4 linked regions of the Homo sapiens genome follow. The protein of the gene in region 2 interacts with the protein of the main gene of each other region in a pairwise test. Each region holds a gene or a part of one and is shown on either strand. Other genes may lie near its edges.

Region 1 (3,500 bases), on a different chromosome or scaffold from region 2:
GAGGTCAGGAGATCGAGACCATCCTGGCCAACATGGTGAAACCACGTCTCTACTAAAAATACAAATATTAACCAGGCGTGGTGGTGTGCACCTGTAGTCCCAGCTCATTGGGAGGCTGAGGCAGGAGAATCGCTTGAACCCAGGAGGTGGAGGTTGCAGTGAGCCAAGATTGTGTCACTGCACTCCAGCCTGGGCGACAGAGCGAGACTCCATCTCAGAAAAAAAACCTCATTTTCCCTGCTCTGTGAATGACCGGGAGAGACTGGACACCAGAACTCCCACTTCCAATCACTAGACTTTGTTACCGATTAACTGCCTCTTTATTGTCCCATACCTAATTCAGAGCAGATGGCACCCAGGACCCCATGACAGTTGCATCTTCAGTGTGGAATGATAAATATACTTGTCCAGAGAGAAAAGGACCCCTTAGCGAGTCAGATCCTTGTAATGTGCAGGCAGCCTTCCATAGAAGGATGCTGAAATTCTGCTAAACTTCCCAAAGCTTTGTCTAGATAAACAATCTCAAACTTCTACACTTTGGAACATGGACTTTCATTCTCTGGATCTCTGATTACTGGGTGGCCTGTACTTCTCCTCAACTTCGTGCTTGGAGAAACTCTAAACCTGATTCTGACTCTTTTGGTTATTTTAGCTTGATACTCTTCCATCACCAACTTTAGTGGGACTGCTTTCCCTACACCAGAAACGGTCACTCTAACAGGTCACAAAGGGCATCTCAGTTTTCATCTGCATTTCTTAATTAGGAAGAAACTGTGTGTCTTTTTGGATGTTAATTATCCATCTTCTTGCCTCATTCTATTAGTATCCTTTGCCCATTTCTCTACTGAAATGTTCTAGTTTCTAGACGATTCTTGAGAACCTTCATCTATTATATTGATGGACACTGGCTTATTTGTCAGAGCTGCTGAAAATAATTCTCCTTCAGGCAATTTGACTTTATCATTCATTTTCCTTGTATGAAAATTTAACTTTTGCTTAATGAAATGCTTTGGGGTTTAGTGTCTTGTTTAGAAAGGCATTCTGCCGCTGAAGTTTAAATATTTTTTAGAAAAAAAAATGGTGTTTTCTTCTAGTATTTTAACATGATTTAATTTTTTAACTTAAAAAGTCTTTATTAAAGTGTAAGTCTACTTTTATAATAATTCAGGAGAGATAGGAAAAGAATGAACTGGGTGTGAAACATTCTCATAAAAAAGGATACAATAGGCCAGGTGCGGTGGTTTACGCCTGTAATCCCAGCACTTTGGGAGGCCGAGGAAGGTGGATCACTTGAGGCCAGGAGTCCAACTACAGCCTGGCCAATATGGTGAAACCCTGTCTGTACTAAAAATACAATAATTAGCCAGGCATGATGGTGCACCTGTAATCCCAGCTACTCTGGAGGCTGAGGCAGGAAGATAATTTGAACCTGGGAGGTGGAGATTGCAGTGAGCCGAGATTGCACCACTGCATTCCAGCCTGTGTGATAGAGTGAGACCCTGTCTCAAAAAAAAAAAAAAAAAAAGATAAAATACACTCGACTGGGCACTCCACTCATGTGACATGAGTTCCAAACATCCTCTATCCATCGGAGTCTTTTGGGCTGTGTCCCGGGCCATTCTCTCTCCTTTCCTCCTAGACGCCTCACCAGTGCCCATGGCTTCAGTTCCAGCCCCAGCGGATTTGCTGATGCCCTCACGTTTCCGCCTACTCTCCTGACCTCTGGGCCTCCATCCACAGCAGCCTCTTCAGAGTCTCGGCTGGGAGTTTCCCACAGGACACTGACACCTACACATCGCCAACTGAGCTCCTGGCCTTCCCCCTCCTGCGAAACCTGCTCCACCCCTGGCCTTGGCCATCTCAGCAAACAGCACTGTGATGCACAGGTGTCACTGAGGAGACAAGGCATCCCCGACACCCTCTTCTCCCTCATTCCACACCTAGTCACCAGATCCCACAGACTCTGTCTCCTGAGGAGCACTGGACCCATCCGCCCCTGCCACCTGCACCCTCACCATCATCCTATTTGCTGGTTCTCTGTGATTGCCCCCACCTGGACTCCCCACAGCAAGTCTGGACTGCACCCCCCACCACCGACCCCCAGGCAGTAAACTCCTGGAAGGCAGGCATATTAACCAAGTCTTCTCATTTAGATGCTTTGACCTCTGGGGCCTTCCTGAGCCTAGAGGACCTTCCCTTCCCTCCCCTCCCCCTCGGATTAGCTAATCCCTGGAGATAGAAAATGACTTGCCCAGAGCACACCTTTCAAATGCAAACCACCCAATCCAGAGCCCACACCCCAGCCACAGCCTCTGTCAGTCTGTCACTCTCAGGACCACTGATCCCTGCCCTATCCCCCCAGAGCCAGGACCAGACAACCAGGGGCAGCCCTGTGCCCCAGAACCCCGAAACTATTCTAACAAATCAGTCCTACACCTGCTCACTCACCTCACCGTTCCTTCCTGTGATTCCACAGTGGAGGCTCCTGCCCACGTCCCCCTTTCCCTCGGGCTTTCTGGCTGACCCTGCAGCTTCCCCCGCACAGCCCTGCGTGGTGCACCCCCTTCTGTCCTAGGGATCTGTGAGTAAGCAGCCATCTCTCCAGTGACAGTCATCTCCTGCTCTGTTGGCCTCACCACACAGCAATAATAAAACCTGTGTTTTAAACCAGCAGGAGCCATGTTTGTCCCATCCCTCACCACCCCCAGGACTGGGTTAGTGATGGTGCCAGACAGTGGCCAGGCCTCCTCAGAGTGGCATCTGCCTGGCCACAGCTGTGGGCGCTTTCTCAGGGTCAGGTGTGGCTGGGGATGCCGCCCTGAAGGAGGTGCCATGCCTACCTTCCTGGAGTCCACATTCTGGACCGGCAACAAGCACATAAAATAAAGAGAAGTGAGAGATATTCCAGTAGCTGGGGCAATCAGGGAGCCCACGGAGGAGGCACCATGGGAGCAGAGCCCCAAGGGGAGTGTGGTGACAGCGTGGGGTCATGGAGGCAAAACCTGCAGGCAGAGCTGAAGAGGAGCCACTGGGGCCAGCATGGCTGGCAGGGTGTGAGCCTGGGGAGCACAGGGATGAGGCCCTTGGGAGCCACAGAAGGACCAGGGTTTGGCAGGGATGTTCCCCACGGAATTGGGCCACGTCTCCTTCCCACTCACAGGTCAGTGTCCTCCCCTGCAGCTGGGCACACCCACACCTCCCTCCATCTCCTCCCCCTCCCACCTGCTGCTCCCTCTCCCGAGACACTCTCTCTGGGCTGCCCATCCCCATTATTCACCATCTCTACTCAAATGTCACCTTCTCCAGGAAGCCTTCCTGATCCCCCTGTCTAAATGCTTCCCACCACAATCACTGAATCAGCCTCCTATTTCAGCACTGCTGGGAACCATCCTGTCTATTTAGTTGTTTACTTCACTTATTTAACACATTTTAAGAACACATTTTTTGATTGCAGTAACATAATACTATATATATATATATATATATATATATATATATAT
Region 2 (3,500 bases):
CCTCCACACGCACCTCTGCCGCTTCTGCTGCTGTTGTTGGCACTTCTGCTGCAGCTGCTGGTGGCGCTGGGCAGCAGCTGCTAGGAGCTCCTCAGCCTTCCTGTGCTCTTCCTGAAACAGCTGCCTGGGGGGCCCAGTAGGGGGTGGTCAGCACCGGCCACTCCCTCCTCCCACCCTCTTCCCCTCCACATCTTACACTGTGGCTGCAGCCTCCTGGCTGCGGAGAAAGAGTCCCTCATCAAGGGTGGAGGGGCCCTCAGCCCCACACAGGGAGCACAGCTGATGCTTCACGTCTTCCAGTGTCGCCTTGACCAGCTTCTCTGCAGCACAAAGGGGCAGGTGAGCACATGAAGGCACGTGAGGTCAGATATGGGCCATCCACCTTCCCTGGTCTCACCTTCCTTGAGCAGCTGCTCCTTGCTGCTGTCCAGGGCACAAATCTCCTTTGCCAGCCGCTCTGGCATCTGAGGGGCAGAAAAGAGGCCTGTCCACTCCTCTTGGCTTTCCCCCATGCCTCAAAGAAGGCTATCTGGATCTTGTTTCATACTTACTCACTATGCCTCACTTCCAACAACTCTGCCCCTCTGTGCACACCAGCTACAGTACAGCCTCAGGGCCATGGCACTGGCCATTCCCTCCCTGTGCACTTCTGTCATCCCACATCTCTGCGGTACTGCAGTGGGGATGCTCATGGATTGTTATTTACAACAGATAAACCTGCAAGCACTGTGAGTCTTGGCTGTTTTCTGGAGGATCAGGTACCGGTTTAGCTCTGCAGCTCCTCCCCACTCCCCTCTGTCCTGGTGTGACCTCCTCACTGAGCCCTTCCTTCCTGACACTCACTGTCTATTTTCTTGTTCAGTGCCTAGGATCCTCCTGGGGGACAAACACGGGCTGCTTATCCTCGTTGTCTCCTTTGTGCCCGTGATGGTCCCAGACACATCCACGGACAGTGATGGAAGACTTGACCTTGGTCTCATCAGAGATCCCCCTGACCACTGAGCAGCAGGGTCACAAGGAGGTGACAAGGGACTGGATTCAGGCAATGTCGATCTTAGCACCACCAGGGCTTGCTTGGCGACTGGTTGTGGCAGGTGAGAGGAAGAAGTGACCGTTTGGGCCTGGTGCTGCTAGGGAAGATGTGGAAGGGGGAGGAGTGGCTTTGAGGGACTCACGTGGAAGTCCCAGAGGTCCTTGTGCTGGCCCATCAGATCTTCCAGCTGTTCCTCGAATGCCAACCTGGGAACCAACCACAGGCATGAGGGGATATGGGCTGAAATCACCACCTTCACAGCCTGTCCAAGTCTGTGGTTCTTCAGGCAGATTTTGGGGTGCTTTGCCCATGGTCTCTGCTCCACTGGGAACATCTTCACCACCTTGAATCTCCATGGCTCAGTGTAGCCAGCTTTTCTAACCCCCATCTTTGACATTATATCCCAACTACTGGCCATCCAAACCCCCTGCCTCAGATGCTAAGGTTTACCTCAGCTGTCTCTGTTTGTTCTTCTCTTCTTCAATCTGCAAGTTCAGGGCAGAAATTCTCTCCTTGCACTCCTGCAACATGGTGTGCTTCCTGGGAGAGGCGAGGCAGCCCTCAGCCATGTTCTCTTAAGCCCCAGGAGGGCACTGGGCTGGGGCTTCTGCCTCCCTCTATTGAGGCTATTTTTTCCCTCTACATTAAGGTCCTTCTCTGTAACATGTGGTAAGTAGGGAGTGACATGACCATTTGCCCCCTGGAAGTATTGTTGTCAGGTTAAGAGAGATTAATGTGGACATGGTTAAGTGAGCAAATGCACACACATCTTAGTATCATCTCGTTTTCCCAAAGAGCTGAAATCTCAGTGTGCCAGGGCCTGGGGCCTCTGGTAACAAATGAGCTAAATCAGGAGGTGGAGAAATGGATGGACAAATCGATGGGTGGATGAAAAGATAATGGATGAATGGAGAGAGAATGGACAAATGGTTGGCTCAATGCCTAAATGAACAGACAGATGAGTGAATAGACATCCAAGGAGTATGACAAAGAGTAAAAGGCAAAAAATAAAAACCAGCTGAAGAAATTTAATTGACAATTTAGCAAATGAATGTCTTGCCATTGAGAGAGTTTCCCTTAACACTACTGCCAGCTGTTGGAGCCGAAGGGGAAAGACATTCTTTGGACTCTCCATTGTTTAGAGGGAAACAATGAGAGCTGTGGGTCTCAGATTCATCTTCCTGCCTCTTTCTGCTCTACCAGAATAAAGAGGTAGTGCAGAGTTAGGCTCAGCTGGAAGCTCTTACCTGTGTGCCTCACTTTCCTTTTCCTGGCAATGCAGCCGGAGGATCCTCAGGGTCTCTGTAGGGAGAGCAACAGGGCCCTATGAGAACCTGTCAAGGTATTGGGTTTTGGCAGGGGGAACACAGCCAGATCATGTCAGGTCTGTGGACACCTGATTGAGCTTTAACATTTACTACATGTCTGGTGGAAGCCACAGGAGAGAGGCAAGCTGGGACAGGTTTCAAAAGGCTTCAGCTGCCATAGGGAGAGTGGGCTTCTGTGGGTTGGCAAAGGCACAAGCCTGGAGACAGGGGAGCGGCAAATACCTTGTTTTTTGCTCAAGATCTCCTTCAGGTGTACTTTCTCTCCATGCACTAGAAAACAGTGACACATTTTGGCATCAGGGACTATGCACTGCACCCTCAGGGATGGGGCTTGCTCACGGTCACATGGGAAGCTGGGCACAGCCTTGGCCCCAACCCAAATGTGAACCCTTGAGGTGAGCCCCTCCCTACCCTCTGGTGCCCACATTCCTTGTAAGCACCAAAGGGCCTTCACATTTACAGAGGGTGGCTGTGAGGGCCCTGGAGGATGCTCGTGCTTTTACATGGGGAGGAGAGAAAAAATACCAACACCCACGAAGTGGGATAAGGGCTATAAAGAAACACATCAAATAGGATGGGGCATGTGACCAGATGGAGGCAGGGTGCCATCTTTAAATGGGATGATTGGGGAATGCCAGTCATCCTGTCTGGGGACATTCTAACTTAGAGCTGATGATGTGAGGAAAGAGGAACCTGTATTATCTGAGGAAGCACAGACAGCGTCTGGCAAAAGCCCTGAGGTGGGAATGAGGTTGGAGGGTGTTTCCTGAACACTCCCACAAGCAGAGAGGAGAGGGGGAGATTGGCAGGACATGAGGCTAGAGAGGGTACAGGACCCTTGGCCATGGCAAGGATGCTGATTATCTGGAATACAGGGTTAGGGGAGGCTTAAGACACTGTGGGGACCTCTGGGTGACCCCCGGCTCTCTTACGCGAGTCCAGTTCCTTCTGCAGGGCCTCACAGATGGTCCGGGCCTCTCCTAGGTCTTTATTGGCTTTCTTTTTTGCTTCACCAAAGAGCAGAAAAACATTGTGTGAGTGCAGCCTCTATTCTCTTCCCAACAGTGACATTTCTCATTTGCCTTCAGGTAAATCTATAGTGGCCTAGATTTTATAGAGTAGGAAACGAGGCTTCCAGC
Region 3 (4,031 bases), on a different chromosome or scaffold from region 2:
GCAAGTCAACAGAGTTATTCCTGTCTTTGTATACAGATTATGTTGTATTATTCCTAGTTAACTGTTTCATCTAGGAAACTCAGTTTTAGTTCCCTATAATGCAACAAACTCTAAACCTCAGCTTTAAGGTAAAGTATTTGCCCAGTGTAATTAGCTTTAATTACTACTCTTCACTTTGGCTTTAAGTATGTTTCCTCATCATTTCTGGCACCTGAAAACTTCTCTTTTTTTTTTTTTTTTGAGACGGAGTCTCTCTCTGTCGCCCAGGCTGGAGTGCAGTGGCACCATCTCGGCTCACTGCAAGCTCCGCCTTCCGGGTTCACGCCATTCTCCTGCCTCAGCCTCCAGAGTAGCTGGGACTACAGGCGCCCGCCACCACACCCGACTAACTTTTTATATTTTTAGTAGAGATGGGGTTTCACCGTGTGAGCCAGGAGAAAACTTCGCTTTTTTACTCTAAAATTTAGTGATGTTGTTTTAAAATTTGTCTTTTTTAAACTTACGATTACATCAAATTCTGTATGTTTAGAGAAAGAGGGAGTAACTTCTGTATCTGTGCATTTTGACTGAAAGTCACAGTTGCTTATCTTTATAGAATTAACATAATTGAGAATGTTTCCCTAAATCCTTGTTCATCTGTGTAGAAATTGACTTGATAGGTACTCAAATATGTTTATATGCTGTATATAAATTACATTTTCTAGTAGTTGCATACTCATAACTATATGTATAACTATCCAATTTATTGATCTTATATCTTCATGAATTAGAATGTTAGGCAAAATGAGACAAATAAGCATGTTAGAATTTAAAACATGCAAGGACAGGATTCATATAAGCATAAAATATGAAGCTCATAGTTGTGAAATCATTTAATTGCTTAGACTAGGTGAAATTGATGAAATTACTATTTTATGCAGTCTGTTATGTACCTTAAATTTATTATGTTGGAAGAGTTATATACAAATATGAATCATCTTTTATTATGTTTAACTTGCAGCATTGCTATACAGTTTTGAATTTTACTAGCAAGAACTGTATCTGTGAGCTTAAACATGATATTTAAAAAAGAAAGAACACTAACTCGTATGTATGATAATCAACTTGGACAACTTGTTCTGGGAAATAGAAAAGTAAACTGGTGCGACTCAAATAAAAGGTTCTCTGCCCTATTACAGACACTGAAAATCCCTAGAAACAGAAACATGAGTAAAAATTACCTTGTACTTTTAGAAATATGCCCTGGGATAGATACTTAGTGTATTTATAGATTTTTTTAAAGTAGGCCATTTCTTTTCATAGTTACTGTAATGATTAAATAAAACATTTCAAGAAATATGACCAGTTTTTACCCAAGAGAAAACAGAATATTCTGTTGCTTTTGTATATGAAGTCAACTTGCCACATTTTTCTAGTGCAAGTGAAAGCAGAGGATCTTATTGTAATATATTAACCTCTTTGGCTACTAAAGTGAGGGCCAAATAGTAGTTTCTAAAAACTAAAAAAAAATTGCAAATTGCATATATTGTCTAATTTTGAAGTATCTGACTTTTTTTGCAATGTAAACTTTCAATGCTTTTTTCTACATTTTATTTAGTCTAAATAACTTATTGAATTAACTTGTATAACAACATTAAGATCATTTTTGTTTAAATATGATGTATAATTTTTGAACTTTTATCTGATTCAAGTAAGCTGTACATACATAAAATGATTTTTATATTACATTTAAAACTGCATAGCTGTGAAGATAATGTGTTCGAGGTATTACGTGGCCAATTCTCAAGTCCACCTTTAAAATACATATAAAAGTCATTATTATTTTGATTTGAAATGGAATATTTATTAAATTCTAACATAGTAACAATTATAACTTTGAAAGTATCTAACCTATCTACATATGTTGTATTTAAATGATGCTGATTTAAATTTTTCAAACTATCAATTAAATGCTAACACTTACGTTAAATGGTATAACAAGTATTTTTAATGTACTAGTTGAAATATTATAAAGGTTAGTGAGTACTTCGATATTTTCTGGTAGCCCTTTCACAAGATTATTTTCTCATTTTTTCAATTTTAGAAGATTCTAGTAAACAACAATGAAGCAATTAAGACCATTATAGCAAATTATTTCAGATTTTTAAGGTTATACGTATGTGTCAAATTTGGGTATAAGCTGCTTTTCAGAGTGAAATATAAAAATGTTCTCTAAAGTAAGCACATTCATAGTCTGTCTATAAAAGAAATAATTTTAGATCTGTTTTTACATCTGACTTTCTAGTATTTTTTAAATGAGAGCTTACTTTTTAAAAGACTTAAAAATTTTTTCTTTCCTCTAAAGTTGATTTTTATTATCGTAGTCTATTTTCAAGAGCTTTATACCCAGATCCCAGTCAGCATGTCAGTAATATATGTGAACAAATCAGCTACTGGTACCCCGGTCCAAATCTGAGCAAAACAAGTAACCCTCATTATTTGTTGAGTGATTTTTAAATGTAACAGTGTAACCAGATGTCAGTCTATGGATACCTCATATTAAAAAGTACAGAAAAGAGTCATTATTTACCTTTCTGTTTTCTTCCTTTTGTTGGTTTTCCACCTGCGGTGTTGGAGTCCTGCCTTTGAGAGAATATCTGAATATCATCTCATGTTTTGAACAAATTATCTAAATCTCTGTCTTATAGGGCACAGACTAATTTCTGTATAGTTTTCATGTTGTTAATTTGAAAGCCAAATAATGAAGTCAAATAAGAGATAAAGTTGTACGTTTGCTGTTAATAGCAAGTGAAAATAGATTGCTTACTTCACACCTGGAGAATCTGGTTCTGCCTGTTAGACGCCTATTCTTTAGATTAAAGGAAGATCATTTTCATTGGAGCTAGTCGGTAACAGGAAGTCCTCGTTAAACTGCCTACGTAGAGTATTTGGCACTGGATCTGCAAATTTAGTCCTACATTGTATATGTAATATATTATTCCAAGAAAATGGGTTTGTATTTAAACAAAGGTTACTTTCTTTTCTATAGATATCAAAACTTACTAAAAATATGGAATTAAATAGGAATGAAAAGAAGCTTGGTGTAAAAGCTTTTTTTGTTCCATTTACTTTAAAATGGTTGAAATCTGTCCTATTTTAGGAAATCCCAAAAGAGCTTAGCTCACAAAATCATAGAATTTCAGAAGGAGAACATCCAGGAAAGAGCTCATGTCTGTAAACCATTCATCCCACGTTACTTTTAATTTTTTTTACTTTTTATTATGCCTGCTGTTTTTATTTTAAAATAAATTTTATATAGAACTAAAGTTATCCAGCAATATATGTTAAATCATTTATTTTGTCAATATAACAACTCAAAATTAATTTATACCAGAGGGAAATGTTTATAGGAAGAATTAAAAATGAAAATTTCTCTTGTACTACCAAATTTCAGACCCATTTTTTCTACCTGACTTGTTACTATTTGAGGGCAAGAAGAAGGAAATTGCTGTATCTATCAAAATCATATATATATATATATATATATATATATATATATTTATTTTTTTTTTATTTTTTTTTTTTTTTGAGAAGGAGTCTTGCTCTTGTAGCCCAGGCTGGAGTGCAGTGGCACGATCTTGGCTCACTGCAACCTCCGTCTCCCGGGTTCAAGCAATTCTGCTGCCTGAGCCCCATAAGTAGCTGGGATTACAGTTGCCTGCCACCACGCCCAGCTAATTTTTTTGTAGAAATGGGGTTTCACCATGTTTGCCAGGCTGGTCTCGAACTCCTGACCTCAGGTGATCCACCTGCCTCAGCCTCCCAAAGTTCTGGGATTACAGATGTGAACCACCATGCCCGGCCAATCACATTTATATTTATTCTTTGTTTTAACAGTTCTACTTCCTGGAATCTGTACTCAAAATAAGAAATGACTCCTTTACACACCTACTTTTTATAGCACTCTTTGTAAAAACAAAACACTGGAAACACAAAAGTCCTTCAGCGTAGAACTGGCTGAATAAATGATGGAACATTCAAAGGGGAGCATT
Region 4 (3,500 bases), on a different chromosome or scaffold from region 2:
CCTTCCAACTCTCTCTACATATAGGTTCAATTCACGTCTATGTGTCTCTCTCCCTTTTTTTATTCTCTTCCTTTTCCCTTTTCCTCTCCTGTGGTATTTAAAATATTCACAGTAAGTGTTCTGAGCTGGAGGAGGAGCTGAAGAATGTCACCAACAACCTCAAGTCTCTTGAGGCTCAGGCGGAGAAGGTAGGGGCTGGTTTGTGAAAGTGACAGGCTTTGGGGCCTGGGCCCAGCCCTGCCCTTGATGAAAGACTGGAGACACGCATTCCATATATAATCCAGTGAGGCGTGTCCTCTTCCTACCTCCTTACCATGTATTCAGGTTCTGGGTTTAATGCTATTTTCTGTGCACTTTGATTGCTTTAATTAAAATAACTTCTTGGTCTCAGGTTACTGGAGTCATGTGCTCCTTAGGCTGATACTGCTGTGCTGAAAAGCAATAATCAAGGGCCCTAACAGGCTTTCTAGCAGACAGATGGGGGCAACAGACAGAATCAGCTCTGAGACCTAATGAGCAATCAAGACAGATGACTTCACTTTGCCATCATGTGGGTGTGTTTCAGTCATGTGACCTTGGGGTGCTACTACTCTTGCTCATCAAGCAGGGGAAAGGAAAAACACCTCCTTGGGTTGATCTGAATAATATCAAAGCTTAGATCCATCTTAAAAAGTCATGGAGAATTTTAACCTGAGGATCTCATGGCTCTAAAGACATAGATTTCTGAATTTCAAGGACCTATTGTCCAGAGCCAGGCCTTGCTCTTACTCTTGGACCATTCAGCACATTTAGTGCAAGAGGATATTCAATGTAAGTTAAATGTAGGGAGGGGGGTATTGCCTGTGTGACTAATTTCTACTCTGAAATTTTTAATCTACTTATCTTACAGTACTCTCAAAAAGAAGATAAATATGAGGAAGAAATCAAGATTCTTACTGATAAACTCAAGGAGGTGAGCTGAGGGGATTTATAGGGCAGAACCCAAAACATTTAGAGGTATATAAGGCATTAATATGGATTTAAACTGGCTGGTTTGGGTTCTGAAAGGTCCAGAAGTAGAAGGTGGAAGAAATAGAGATTGTTCTTCTTTGTCTTCATCTCTGGTTCTGACTAATTTCATATTTCCCCCAGGCAGAGACCCGTGCTGAGTTTGCTGAGAGATCGGTAGCCAAGCTGGAAAAGACAATTGATGACCTGGAAGGTATGGAACCTGGAGTAGGGATTGAAATAGAGAAATATAGAGGAAGACTGCCCATTAACCATTAATCTCTTTTTCTGTACACCAAAGGAAGTTGGTAGTGACTTGGCATGTATTAATATCATGTGCACTGTCCTATGCCACAGCTAGGCAAAGTGGGTCAAACTCTAGAATTGGTTTTTTAAATTTAATCTTTTCCTTTAAGAAGACTTTACCAAATAGTCTGCAATTTGTACCCTTCCCTTTTGAGGAGAATGATAATGGCTGCATTTACCTCCAATTTATTAGTCTTAAACCTTTAGTCTGTGGGTTTAAATGGAAGCCATGATTTCAGAAGGGCAAGATGTATGTCATTTCATGGCTACTTTCCACAGTTCTTTTTGCCACTCAAGTTGTCGGGTATTTATCCAATAAATGAAGTTGTGGAATAACCATATCTGAACATTGACCAATGTCAGGAGCTTTCTAAATACTTTCTGTCCCTGCAAGTTGGTAACTGCCATCCACCCTGACAAGGGAACGTACTCTTTGCTTTGAGAACTCTGATGTATGCTCCTTTGGTACACTCTCTTGGCAGAGTTGCAGGGGCAGCCTGTGGAGCAGAGGGGCCACTAATAGGTTCACATTTTGTAGGCAGAGAAGTGTCTGAATATGGATATATACTCTCTCCCTTTGCTATTTTTGTTCAATTAAGTGTTATCACTGCTAGGAATTGGGTACCTGGATGGGAGTGGTATCCTCTTGAGTGCTTTTGGTAATAGGAATTTCTAGTTATGACTGTGCCCAGGTTCTCAGCCCTTGCTGCAGTCGATTTGGAGTATCAAGAAAGGAAGTTGGTCATAGGAGAGAGTAGATCTGAAAATGTCCAGTCATGGTTGCCAGAGTAGATATTTTCCTAACTGTGGTATTAGACCCACAGTCACACTTTCCTAATTTCTAATGATTCCCTCTCTTCATCTGCTTCTGAAACTCTTCACTCTGTCCCCTCATTCCTCCCTGTGGTTCCTGTGCCTGTCCAGATGAGCTCTATGCCCAGAAACTGAAGTACAAGGCCATTAGCGAGGAGCTGGACCACGCCCTCAATGACATGACCTCTATGTAACTATCTGACAGTAGAGTGGGGCTGGGATCTTGGCTTGTGGGTGGATGGGGGTACAAGCTATGCATAGTGGTGTGCTTTGGTTTTATCCTTTGGAAACTAGAATCTCCACCCTTATCTTTGAAACATTGGTGCTGGTTATTTGTTTGGCAAAAGCTTTGGAGGCATGGCCGGGCGCGGTGGCTCACGCCTGTAATCCCAGCACTTTGGGAGGCCGAGGCAGGTGGATCACGTGAGGTCAGGAGTTGGAGACCAGCCTGGCCAACATGGTGAAACCCCGTCTCTACTAAAAATACAAAAAGTAGCCAGGCATGGTGGCAGTGCACCTGTAATCCTAGCTACTCAGGAGGCTGAGCCAGGAGAATCGCTTGAATCTGGGAGGCAGAGGTTACAGTGAGCCAAGATGTGCCACTGCATTTCAGCCTGGGCAACAGAGTGAGACCCCATCTCAAAAAAAAAAAAAAAGAAAAACATTAAAGGCTGGGCGTAGTGGCTCACACCTGTGATCCCAGCACTTTGGGAGGCTGAGGTGGGCGGATGACTCGAGGCCAGGAGTTCAAGACCAGCCTGGCCAACATGGCAAAACCCTGTCTCTACTAAAAAATATTTAAAAAATTAGTTGGGCTTGGTGGCGCATGTCTATAATCCCAACTACTCGGGAGGCTAAGGCAGGAGAATCACTTGAAACCAGGAGATGGAGGTTGCAGTGAGCCGAGATAATGCCACTGCACTCCAGTCTGGGTTGAAGAGCAAGACTGTCTAAGAAAAAAAAGCTCTGGAGGCAATTAATCTTGGATCAGAAGGAGAACCCTGACTGACTTGTAATTTTTATATTTTGTATTCATAGTTTCTTCATTATACTGTGATTTTTCTATTTGCTTCTCAAATTTAGTCTTCTCAGAAGGGATACTGCTAGAGGTAGAATCCATACAACTAAGGAAATAGGGCCCACAGAGCCAGTAACTTGGGCCCTGACACATTAAGACAAAATTCAGGCCTCCTGGGTGTGTTTAATTGGTTCCCTGATATTAAAGTTCAGGGAACTACCCAAGATGGGAAATACCAAATTCACCTAAGAATTGAGCTGAGTCCCAGAAGCAAGCCAAGTGATAAACAGCACCAAAAAGAGTTGTTGGGGCTTCATCTGTTTGCTGTGGATCCCTGATCCTTGATGCTAATCTGCCTCTTTGTATCTTTCCCACT

What was found. The genes of interacting proteins can lie anywhere in the genome.
Region 1: the proteins of SYCE1 (region 2) and CFAP100 interact in binary tests that used the Homo sapiens proteins (3 or more experiments, as listed by UniProt).
Region 3: the proteins of SYCE1 (region 2) and STX19 interact in binary tests that used the Homo sapiens proteins (3 or more experiments, as listed by UniProt).
Region 4: the proteins of SYCE1 (region 2) and TPM3 interact in binary tests that used the Homo sapiens proteins (3 or more experiments, as listed by UniProt).

Annotation. Positions count from the first base shown.
Region 1 is NC_000003.12:126,401,409-126,404,908, reverse strand, and holds part of CFAP100 (cilia- and flagella-associated protein 100), read right to left. Parts: intron 1-3,500. UniProt on the Homo sapiens protein: May play a role in ciliary/flagellar motility by regulating the assembly and the activity of axonemal inner dynein arm.
Region 2 is NC_000010.11:133,555,584-133,559,083, forward strand, and holds part of SYCE1 (synaptonemal complex central element protein 1), read right to left. Parts: intron 3,369-3,500; coding exon 3,294-3,368; intron 2,632-3,293; coding exon 2,584-2,631; intron 2,336-2,583; coding exon 2,281-2,335; intron 1,574-2,280; coding exon 1,484-1,573; intron 1,240-1,483; coding exon 1,176-1,239; intron 465-1,175; coding exon 398-464; intron 321-397; coding exon 197-320; intron 125-196; coding exon 14-124; intron 1-13. UniProt on the Homo sapiens protein: Major component of the transverse central element of synaptonemal complexes (SCS), formed between homologous chromosomes during meiotic prophase. Requires SYCP1 in order to be incorporated into the central element.
Region 3 is NC_000003.12:94,025,798-94,029,828, forward strand, and holds the start of STX19 (syntaxin-19), read right to left. Parts: upstream 2,801-4,031; 5' UTR 2,570-2,800; intron 1-2,569. UniProt on the Homo sapiens protein: Plays a role in endosomal trafficking of the epidermal growth factor receptor (EGFR).
Region 4 is NC_000001.11:154,168,101-154,171,600, reverse strand, and holds part of TPM3 (tropomyosin alpha-3 chain), read left to right. Parts: intron 1-112; coding exon 113-188; intron 189-889; coding exon 890-952; intron 953-1,131; coding exon 1,132-1,201; intron 1,202-2,217; coding exon 2,218-2,296; intron 2,297-3,500. UniProt on the Homo sapiens protein: Binds to actin filaments in muscle and non-muscle cells. Plays a central role, in association with the troponin complex, in the calcium dependent regulation of vertebrate striated muscle contraction.